Linked DNA regions of Homo sapiens: region 1 is linked to region 2. A link means that fine-mapping ties the variant in region 2 to the expression of a gene that starts in the linked region. Tissue or cell type: monocytes. Region 2 holds a variant in brackets; the other region holds the start of a gene. All regions are shown on one strand. Distances are from middle to middle.

Evidence for each region. PIP is the estimated chance that this variant, and not a neighbour inherited with it, causes the effect.
Region 1: it holds the start of TRABD, and the variant in region 2 is fine-mapped to the expression of TRABD in monocytes (Quach 2016, PIP 0.95).

What each region holds. Positions count from the first base shown.
Region 1 is chr22:50,183,440-50,188,439 of GRCh38, forward strand. It overlaps TRABD (TraB domain containing), which reads left to right and starts at 2,474. Exons shown (of 10, transcript NM_001320485.2): 1 at 2,474-2,537. RefSeq lists an enhancer at 186-761 and silencers at 1,647-1,716, 1,907-2,006, 2,277-2,646, 2,913-3,222, 4,163-4,212.
Region 2 is chr22:50,047,248-50,052,500 of GRCh38, forward strand. It overlaps TTLL8 (tubulin tyrosine ligase like 8), which reads right to left. Exons shown (of 14, transcript NM_001350317.3): 4 at 2,862-3,000; 5 at 2,002-2,075; 6 at 1-49. Among named protein-coding and RNA genes, the nearest start is that of TTLL8, 8.4 kb to the right of the region's middle. The variant CT/C (reference allele first, on the strand shown) is at 3,128.

The DNA.
Region 1 (5,000 bases), 140 kb after region 2:
GCCTGAGATGTGGGTGGTGGCCCAGGGCCTGCGGCTGAGGTCCTGCCTCAGTTTCCCCAGCACGCTCCCTGAGGACTCAATCTCCCCCTTTTCTGCTTCTCGCCCCTCACAGCCTAGTGCAGCCCTGCAGGGGACCCCAGCCGGATCGGAGGGCAGTTCTGCTTCTCCACTGTCTGCTGCCCACCGGGGGCTGGGATCTCGGACACTCTCCCCTCCCCAACTGGCCACCTTGCCCAGGTGAGTCAGAGGGTCGTTCTGCAGCCCGGGGGCCAGCGTTGGTTTGAAATAGTGCCCCCTCCTGCCCCTCCCCCTCCCTGAGCATAAGCAGGCCTGGCAGGTGGATAGAACCGTCCCTCTCATGGAGAAGGAGGGGCTCCAGGAGGACCTTGCACCCATCCCAGATGGCCAAGACTGAGAACCCAGGCCTCCAGCCCCCAGGCCAGGGATCTTCCCTCCACACCAGCCCAGCACTGAGAAATGGGTGAGGTGGAGCCGGGGCGACTGCCACCCGCTGCCCTCCTGTGAGGATGTGGCCGAGATGGTCGGAAAGGCAGAATGACCACAAAGGCAGCGAACAATGAGAATCAATGGAGAGGATGTGAACCAGAGGCCCTAGGGCCCAAAGTGAGTGTCCTTCACCAAGGAGGACAGAGGCCTCTCTAAGGCCAGGCCTGGCCATTTGGGGACCAGGAAGCTGTAGGAGGGGGCGGGGCCTCTTGTGTAAGAATGCTCAGTGGGCAGCCAGCCCAGCCTGCTGCCGTGTGGACAGGCATTTTCACCCATCCGCCCCACCCCGGGAGGACCACCTGCAGACTCAGGACCAGGGACCTGAGGGGACCCCTGCAGGCCACCCGAGCCGGGGCAGCTCCTCAGAACCTGGGGCTGGGGCCGGGGCCTCCCTTCCTGGAGCCTGGAAGGAAGCAGGCTCCCCAGCACGGAGTCCTGGTGGACGGCCTCAGGCAGACCCAGACCAAGCCTGGGCGCTGCGTTGGACTCCCCCAACCCCAGGCCTGCTGGGTCAGCCTTCCAGGCTCGCTGAAGGTTCCTGCGTGGGGCAGCCCTCACTGAGGTCCTCCCCGTGGCTCCAGAGAGGAGCTAGTCCTAGGGCACTCGAGTAGAGAGGTGCGCCCTCCTCCCTCTTCTAAATGGTTCCCCAGCTGGCCCCACCTGGCCCCTTTCCCCAACTAACTCATCAGTGCCTGGCAGGAAGACACAGCAGCCCTCCCCCGGTGACTGGAGTCCTGGCCCCAGGGCAGGCCCCGCTCCAAGAACCTGATCCTTTGGCTGGGGCAGGGCCGTAGAGGTGGGCGCAGAGCTTCGGGGAGCTGGCTGTGGGGTCCGCGCATGCAGCCCGCAGGCAAACCATTGCCAGGCCCACGCCTGCACTAAGCCCAGCGCCAGCGCCAGGTCAGCCAAGAACCCGGGGTCGTGGAGGAGGAAGGAAGTCGTGGGCCCGGGATGCGCGGCCGGACCATTGCAGGAGAGCGGGGCAGGCGGACGGCGCAGCAGCTTGCGGGCAGCGAGTCGTCTGCATGCGGCGGCGAAGCGCCCGGGCCCCCGTCCGCGCCGGTGCCCGCAGCGCGCAGCAACTTGGCCGCCGGGTCCCGGCCGCCCCGGTAGAGGCTGGGTACAGCGAGGGGGCCGGGCGCCCGGGCAGGACGGGCGCGGCGGGTGGGGCCTGGCCGTCTCCCCCTGCCCTCGGGGCCGAACACGCACAGCGAGAGTCTAGCGTCGGCGTGGCTGCGGCCAGCCGGGTCCCCCTGGAGGCCTCCGGACGATCGGAAGTGACTGAGCGTCCGGGTCCGTGAGGCCGGGGGTCGGCCCGCCCTAAGACTCCCACCTGGTCCCGGTTCTCCGTCCGCTAGGCTGGCCGCGGGGCCCCTGGGGCCCGACCTTCCCGGGGTGCCCCAACCTGCGGCAAGGCCGAGGTCCCGCTGAGGCATGAGTCCCGGGTCGGGGACCGCTCTGGGCCGACCCCCGGAGGACGGACTAGGCCGATCCCCAGAGGGAAGGGGGCCAGGCCGAGGCCATGGCAGCGCGTTCCCTGATCCCGTGTTCTCGGCTCCTCGCGTCCCACTATCGGCTGTCCCTTTCGTGCGGGACTGACGGCTCACAGAACAGTTACATTTCAATATCATTCGACTGAAAACCATCCTGTGGACGCCGTGCGAGCATTGTCCCCATTTCACAGCTTGGGAGCTGCGACCAGAGAACGTGGGCGCGCCTCGCAAGGCCGTGACCGCGGCGGGACTCGAACCCTCCCTCCTGAGTGCGCGCCGATGTTCCTTAGGACCCGGGAGCGCCGGGGGGGGGGGGGGGGGCGGGGGCCCCGCGCGCTACCCCCTGGGAAGTGTAGTCCGAAGTTGCGGGCCGGGGCCAAGCAGGAGGCGCGTGGGACTACACTTCCCGGCATGCCACGCGGCCGCCGGCGCCCTCGGCCCGTCCGCCCCGCCCCGCCCCGCGGCCCCAGCCCGCCCCGTCCGTTGAGGGCCCGCGCCGCATGGAGGCCGGCTGAGGAGCGCCGCTGCCTCGCCTCGGTACGCCGCGCGGCGCGGACGGCGCGTGCGTGAGGACGGGGCCCAGCACCGAGCGGGGGGCGGGCCCGGGTCAGGGCCGCGGGGTGACTGTGGGGGGCGGGGGGAGCGAGCCCGAGTCGGGGGGTGGGGGCCGGGGGCGGGGGGGGTCAGGCCCGGGTCAGGTTTTGGGGCCGGGGTAGCAGGTCGTGGGGGTCAGGCCCGGATCAGGTTCAGGTTTTGGGGCCGGGGGAGCAGGTCGTGGGGGTCAGGCCAGGGTCAGATTCAGGGTTTGGGGCTGGTAGACCAGGGTCGTTGGGGGCCGGGCCCGGGTCAGGTTTGGGGGCCGGGGTGGCAGGTCGTTGGGGGGGCCAGGCCCGGGTCAGGTTTTGGAGCCGGGGGAGCAGGTCGTGGGGGTCAGGCCCGGGTCAGGTTTGGGGCGGGAGCAGGCCCCGCGCGTCCCCTGCCACCGCTGCCGGGAGCGGCGCTGCCGAGGAGCGGAGCCCCCCAGGGCTGGGGCGGGGAGGGTCAGCGGCGGCCTCGCGGGAAGGCGCGGGTCGGACCTCGAGTCCCAGGGTCCTCGCGGGTCGGGAGGGCCCCAGCCACCCCCGCCTGCCGCCTGCGGTGGAGCCGGCCGAGGTGAGAGTGGAGGAAGGCGGCCCAGGCCTGCGGGTCTCTGGGGGTGCTGGGGGAGGCCGAGCGGGAGGCCCCGGACCCCCGTTGTCCCCTCCGGCCCCGCTGAAACCTGGGGCTTCGCTCTTCTGTAGGTGCCTTTGCCCTTCAATTGGAGCAGAGCGGGGTTCCCATATGGGCGAAGTGGACGCCAGATCGTCCCCCGCTGTGCGCAGCCCAAACTTAAAAGGTCTTTTTAACTGAGCTATCATGAAGCTGCCGTGTGTCTTTGTCAAAACTCTTACAAGAAAGATGGAGTGGGAGCTGTCTGGGCACTAGCGTCCCAGAAACAACCAGGAACTTGTGGAGGTGCTAAGCTCCCTGCGGGGACTCCCGCAGCCTCGGTAGCCTCCAGATGGAAGCCTCCTAGCTTTCAGGTCCCTGAAGAGGCCGTGCAGGCCGCCAGGCTCACTGCGCTGTGTGTCTCTGCTCCCCGCTTGCTGCCGCCGCCCTTGCAGTGTGACTGGTGGGGATGCTGGCCAGCCTCGCCGGAGGCCCTGATGCTGTGGGGTCCGAGGAGGGGGCCTGGCAGGGTGGGTGGGTGGCAGGAGCCTGTGGGGCCCCCTGCATGGTGGTCAGTGTGGGGGCTCTGCATTGACTGTGACCAGGTCCTGGGAGGTTGGGGGCTGCCAGGTGTGCTGGCAAGGAGGCCTCGGGCTCTGGCTCAGGTGTGTTTCCCGTCTCCCAGCTCTGCCACACCTGCGTGAAGCGGTCCCGCCAAAGCCGGGAGGGGTTTCCTGTGGCCAAAGGTGCCAGGCATCAGAAACAGGAAGCAGGGGAGGTCAAAGCTCTGGGCCACACCCTGGTCCCTCCAAGTTTGTCATTTCTGCAACCCCCAGGTCTGACCAGTTTGGAACCTGGGCTTTCTGAGCCGGTCTAGTGGGTTGGTTGAGAGATGGGGGTTTTTCTGGTAACTGCATTTGGTGCTAGCCAGTTTTTGGTCTGCACTAGGAAGCTAGGCTGCAGTCTGGGAGGCAGTTTCTAGTGGGGTGAAGGGGATAAGATGGGTGTCTTAGCTCTAGCTGCTGTAACAAAGCATCACAGACCAGGAAACTTTAAAAAACAGCAGGCTGGGCTGGGTGTGGTGGTTCACGCCTGTAATCCCAGCACTTTGGGAGGCCGAGGCGGGCAGATCACGAGGTCAGGAGATGGAGACCTTCCTGGCTAACACGGTGAAACCCCGTCTCTACTAAAAAATACAAAAAATTAGCTGGGTGTAGTGGCAGGCGCCTGTAGTCCCAGCTACTCGGGAGGCTGAGGCAGGAGAATGGCGTGAACCCGGGAGGCAGAGCTTGCAGTGAGCCGAGATCATGCCACTGCACTCCAGCGTGGGCAACAGAGTGTGACTCTGTCTCAAAAACAAAAATGAGGTCTTGGCCTGGCGCAGTGGCTCACACCTGTAACCCCAGCACTTTGGGAGGCCGAGGCAGGTGGATCACAAGGTCAGGAGTTCAACACCAGCCTGGCCAAGATGGTGAAACCCCATCTCTACTAAAAATACAAAAATTAGCTGGGGGTGGTGGCGCACGCCTGTAATCCCAGCTACTCGGGAGGCTGAGGCAGGAGAATCGCTTGGACCTCAGGGTGGGGGAGGTTGCAGTGAGCCAAGATCACGCCACCGCACTCCAGCCTGGGCGACAGAGTGACACTCCGTCTCAAATAAAAAAAAAATGAGGTCTCGCTAAGTTGCCCAGACTGGTCTTAAACTCCAGACCTCAGACAATTCTCCTACCTCAGCCTCTCCTGAGTAGCTGGGGCTGTGAGCGAGTAGGCTCCTCCCACCATGCCTCACTGGTGCTGGGAAAAAACTTAACA
Region 2 (5,253 bases):
TCTTGATGGTCCAGAGGAGGTACGGCATCTCATTTTTTACCAACCTAGACTGGCAAGAAAAAAGTCTTTATTGATGCCCAGCATTCAAGGTTCACACCAGCCAGGATGGGATGGAGTGAGGCAACCATCAGAGGACAAATGGCGTGCAGCGTGAGGATCCCAGCCGGGCTCTGCTGCAGGCAGTAGTGCTCCTTGTGGGCCTCCTGCACATGGGATGTGGGGCGCAACCAGGACCACATACGGTTTCCACAGAGGGGCCTCGGGCTCTGGGGGGCCACCCCGATGTGGGGCTGCAGGTGGGGTCTGAGCCGTCCGCATGGGGTCTACGTGGGTGTGGGGACGTGCCACTTGCCGAGGTGACACGACACTTCATAACCCAGAGCTTACAGTCCCCAGGACCGAAGCCCCCAGGCCTGTACCATGGGCCCTGCACACCCCTCCCTGAGCCCCAGGCACTGGCCTCCCGCTCCTCCCCTGCTGATAGAGGGGTTGGTCGTGGAGCTGGGGGCCTGTTGTTGGTGCTTTTCTGTTTATAACAATGGCATGTGTTAAGTCAAAATTCCAACCAGGCTGGGTGCAGTGGCTCACGCCTGTAATCCCAACACTTTGGGAGGCCAAGGCAGGCAGATCACCTGAGGCCAGGAGTTCAAGACCAGCCTGACCAACATGGTGAAACTCGTCTCTACTAAAAATACAAAAATTAGCCGGGCGTGGTGGCGGGCGCCTGTAATCCCAACTACTCCGGAGGCTGAGGCAGGAGAATCACTTGAACCCAGGAGGCAGAGGTTGCAGTGAGCCGAGATTGCACCATTGTACCCCAGCCTGGGCAACAGAGTGAGACTCCATCTGAAAACACCCCCCCAAAAAAGTGTGTGTGTGTGTGTGTGTGTGTGTGTGTAAATAATAGCATACTAATCACTAACCACTGGGTACTGGGGTGAGAAACAGCATCGTCAACAGAGCCGAAGTCCCCCAGCCGCCCCCACCCGGTAACTGCCACCTGCTTCTGTCTGTCCTCCAGGCACAATGAGCAGAATGTTTCTGTCTCTCTGGAATGCATGTGCTACAATCCTCATCCCCAGGGCGATGGCATAGGAGGCTTTAGGATTAGGTCATGAGCCTGAGCCCCTTATGATGGGCTAGCACCCTTATAAAAGAGGCCCCAGAAAAACCCTCGCCCCTGGGTGAGGACGCAGAGAGAAGCCAGCCGTCCATGAAGCAGGACACTCTCACAGCACCCAGCCACACTGCCCCAACCCAGACTCCAGCCTCCAGAACAGTGAGGAATGTTCTGATGTGTCCACACCACTGCCCACGGACCTGTGGGAGCCGCTGGAGCACCCAGGATGCTCTGTAGGAATGGCACTGACTCCAGGAACCTGGAAGGGCGAGCTCACTGGCCATGTGGGAGGCGCCTCATCAAATCTGGGCCCATTTTTCTATTTGTCTTTTCATTACTGATTTGTGAGTTCTTCATATATTCTGGACATTTGATCTTTTAAATTTTAAGTACTGCAAATGCCGCCTCCCACCCTGGTTTCTCTTTCGCCCTCTTTATGGTGGAGTGTTGGGAGCCCCGGAGGGACTAGGCTGGGCTGGGGAGGTGGGGAGGCACATACTACTGTGTTGCTGGAGACAGGAGCTCACTCGCTGGCCAGGCCCCATCCTGCAACACACCAGCCGGGCTGTCCGAGCCCTGCCGGGCCTCAGTGCCCTCAGCTTCCACATGCGCACAGCAGGCCAGCCCAGTGTGGGTGGAGGGGAGCTGGGAGCACCGGGTCCACCCACTACACAGCGGCTCATCCAGCACCGAAGGGCTCGCCCCACCCCTGGGGGCAGCCAGGCCCTGCTGCCCGGTCAAGGGGCCCTGCTGTGACTGGGGCTTTGCCCTCGCCGGGCTGCCATCCCCCCAGGACATGGGAGAGTGGGCACGGAGCAGGGCGACGGTGTGAGAAGCTTTGGAGAGGCCGCAGCTGACCATGACGCATGCAGGGGACGTACCATCACGTCGTGGATGTTGTCTGTTTTCTCCAAAGCCATTTCTTGATTTTCTTTGACTTTGGCACATGTATCATCTGCCAACAAAACACAGGGGAGGCCTGAACATGAAGCCTCAGCCAGACTTCCCGCACCGGGTCCGTTACCACAACCGCAGGCAGGACAGCGACTTTACTTCCAGAAACCTGGCTCCAGATGGGGCCTTCCCCTGGTGGAGCAGGAGCCTCTGTGGGTCCTGAGTCAGGCTTGGGGCATTCTGGCAGCCCCCATACATCCAATGAGCGTCCACCGCACAGCACCTCCCCAGGGCTGTGACAGGGCTTGGGGGCCCGGGATTCCTGGAGGCCCAGGTGTCCCCAGGTGTGGAATGGTGGAGACAGCCCGGGATGGGGGTGGGAGTGATAGAGGCTGAGGGGCCACAGGCAGGGGTGGAGGAGGAGGGGGACATTTGATCCGGGTCTCAATGGGGCCAAGAGGATGCAGACACAGCTGTGCAGATGTCAGCGAGGAGCAGCCAGCACCACGGGGGCCTGAGGAGTGGACTTCAGGGACCTGGGGCTGGAGGAGGGACAGCTGAGGCCGGGCGGAGAGAGGATGACAGAAACCGCCCGGGCAGGAGGAGGCCTGGGTGGAGGCCACAGGGACTCTGAGAAGGGAGCAGGGCTGGGGGCTTGAAAGGGTTTGCCTGGCACGACCGCCTGGGGCAGGGAGGCCAGGAGGGTGATGGAGACCTGGGGTCGGAGATACCCCATCACGCACACCAGGGCCGAGGGGCAGGCACCACACTCAGGCCGGCGCCGACTCCTCCTGCCCGTGACAGACGCACACGCCCTGAGCTGAGACGTGCGCCTCCGATACGCTACCATTGACCCGGGCGCCTTCATCCTCGACATCCGGAATGACCTTGGGCAAAAAGTGGAACTTCTTCTCTACCCAGCCCTTCCTTCGCAGAGCGGCCCGGACCACCGGGTAGTGTCCGTAGATAGAGAAAATCTTCTTCTCCTAAAATGGCAAGAGGATATTTTATTTTATTTCAATCATTTTTGGGGAATAGGCAGATTTTGGTTGCATGGATAAGCTTGTTAGTGCTGGTTTCTGAGATTTGGGGGCACCCATCACCCAATATGTC[CT/C]TTTTTTTTTTTTTTGAGATGGAATCTCACTCTGTCATCCAGGCCGGAGTGCAGTGGGGCAATCTCAGCTCACTGCAACCTGTCTTCCAGGTTCAAGCAATTCTCCTGCCTCAGCCTCCCAAGTAGCTGGGATTACAGGTGCCTGCCACTAAGGAAGGAGACCACTACTACTCCTGCTGCCCTCCTCCCCCACCTTGCCTAGTTCACAAGACAGGAGGAGAGAAAGAGCAAAAAGTTGGGGGAAAAGAAAAGTAAGATAAATAGCCAGACAACCTTGGCACCACCACCCAGCCCTAGGAGTTAAAAAAAGTAATAATAATAACATCAACCCCTGACCTAAACTACTTGTGTTATCTGTAAATTCCAGACACTGCATGAAAAAAGCATTGTAAAACTTTCTGTTCTGTTAGCTGATGCATGCAGCCCCCAGTCACGTTTCCCATGCTTACTTGATGTATCACGACCCTTTCACGTGGACCCCTTAAAGTTGTAAGCCTTTAAAAAGGCCAAGAATTTCCTTTTCTGGGAGCTCAGTTCTTAAGACGCGAGTCTGCTGACACTCCCGGCCGAATGAAAACCTCTTCCTTCTTTAATCCGGTGTCTGAGGAGTTTTGTCTGTGGCTCATCCTGCTACACCACCAGGCCTGGCTAATGTTTGTATTTTTTAGTAGAGATGGGGTTTCATCATGTTGGCCAGGCTGGTCTTGAACTCCTGACCTCAGGCGATCTGCCCACCTTGGCCTCCCACAGTGCTGGGATTACAGGCGTGAGCCACCGCGCCCAGCCCCAATATGTAATCTTTTATCCCTCTCTCCCCTCCCAATCTTCCCCCAAGTCTCCAAACTCTATCTTATCATTCTTATGCCTTTGCATCCTCATAGCTTAGCTCCCTCTTATGAGAACAAGCGATATTTGGTTTTCCATTCCTGAGTTACTTCGCTTGGAAGAATGGCCTTCAGCTCCATCCAGGTTGCTGCAAAAGACATTATCTGGTTCCTTCTTATGGCTGAGCAGTATTCCGTGGTGCAGATACACCACAGTTTCTTTATCCGCTCGTTGGTTGATGGGCATTTTGATTGGTTCCATATTTTTGCAGTTGTGAACTGAGCTGCTGCAAACATGCGTGAGCAAGTATCTTTTTTGTATCATGACTTCTTATCATCTGGGTAGATGCCCAGGAGTACGGTTGCTGGATCAAATGGTAGATCTACTTTTAGTCCTTTAAGGAATGTCCACGCTGTTTTCCACAGTGGTTGCACTAGTTTATATTCCCACCAGCAGCGTAAAAGTGTTCCCTGTTCACCACTTCCACGCGGACCTCTATTACTTTTTCACTCTTTCATTATGGCCATTCTTGCAGGAGGAAGGTGGTATCACATTGTGGTTTTAATTCGCATTTCCCTGAGAATTAGTGATGCTGAGCGCTTTTTCACGTTTGTTGGCTGTTTGTATAGTATTTTAAGTCAAGGAATTGAAAAATAAGTTGATTATTTTTCTGTAAGAGGAGTTTTCAAAGCAGAAGGAGACAAACTGTGCTCTGGCAGGAAGACATCTGCTCAAAGAAGACCATGCCCACACCCAGGCACACAGCGGACGAAGCGGCACAATTACAGCTGTAGCTGGGAACCCTGAGTCTGAGTCCCAGCACCCATACGAGACATCCGGTCGGTCCCAGCACCTCTCTGGGAACCCCGAGTCTGAGTCCCAGCACCCACACGAGACATCTGGTTGGTCCCAGCACCGCTCTGGGCCGCTGTCTACTCCGATAATCAGTCTGAGGCCTGTCACCCGCCCACGTGGCTGTGCACGTGAATGAGCCTATCACCCGAGGCTTTGGGGAGAACGGTGGGGGAGCTGGACAGTCCGCAAGAGGGCTGGCACCCTCCGACTCCACAAGACACTCTGCCACCCCCAACACCCTGCTTAGCTGTGGTCAAACTGAGTAACTTTAGAAAAATGGATGGGCAGAATACAATTCCTAAGGAAACCACCAAAGGAATAAAAACAGCGTAAGATTTCCAACAGGTAAGAGAGGGGAAAGGGGGATTTAAAAAGTAACCAGTCCGGGAGAGCACATGAAAGGAGAGGAAAGGAAAATTGAACCAAAGGAACGTACTAAATGAAT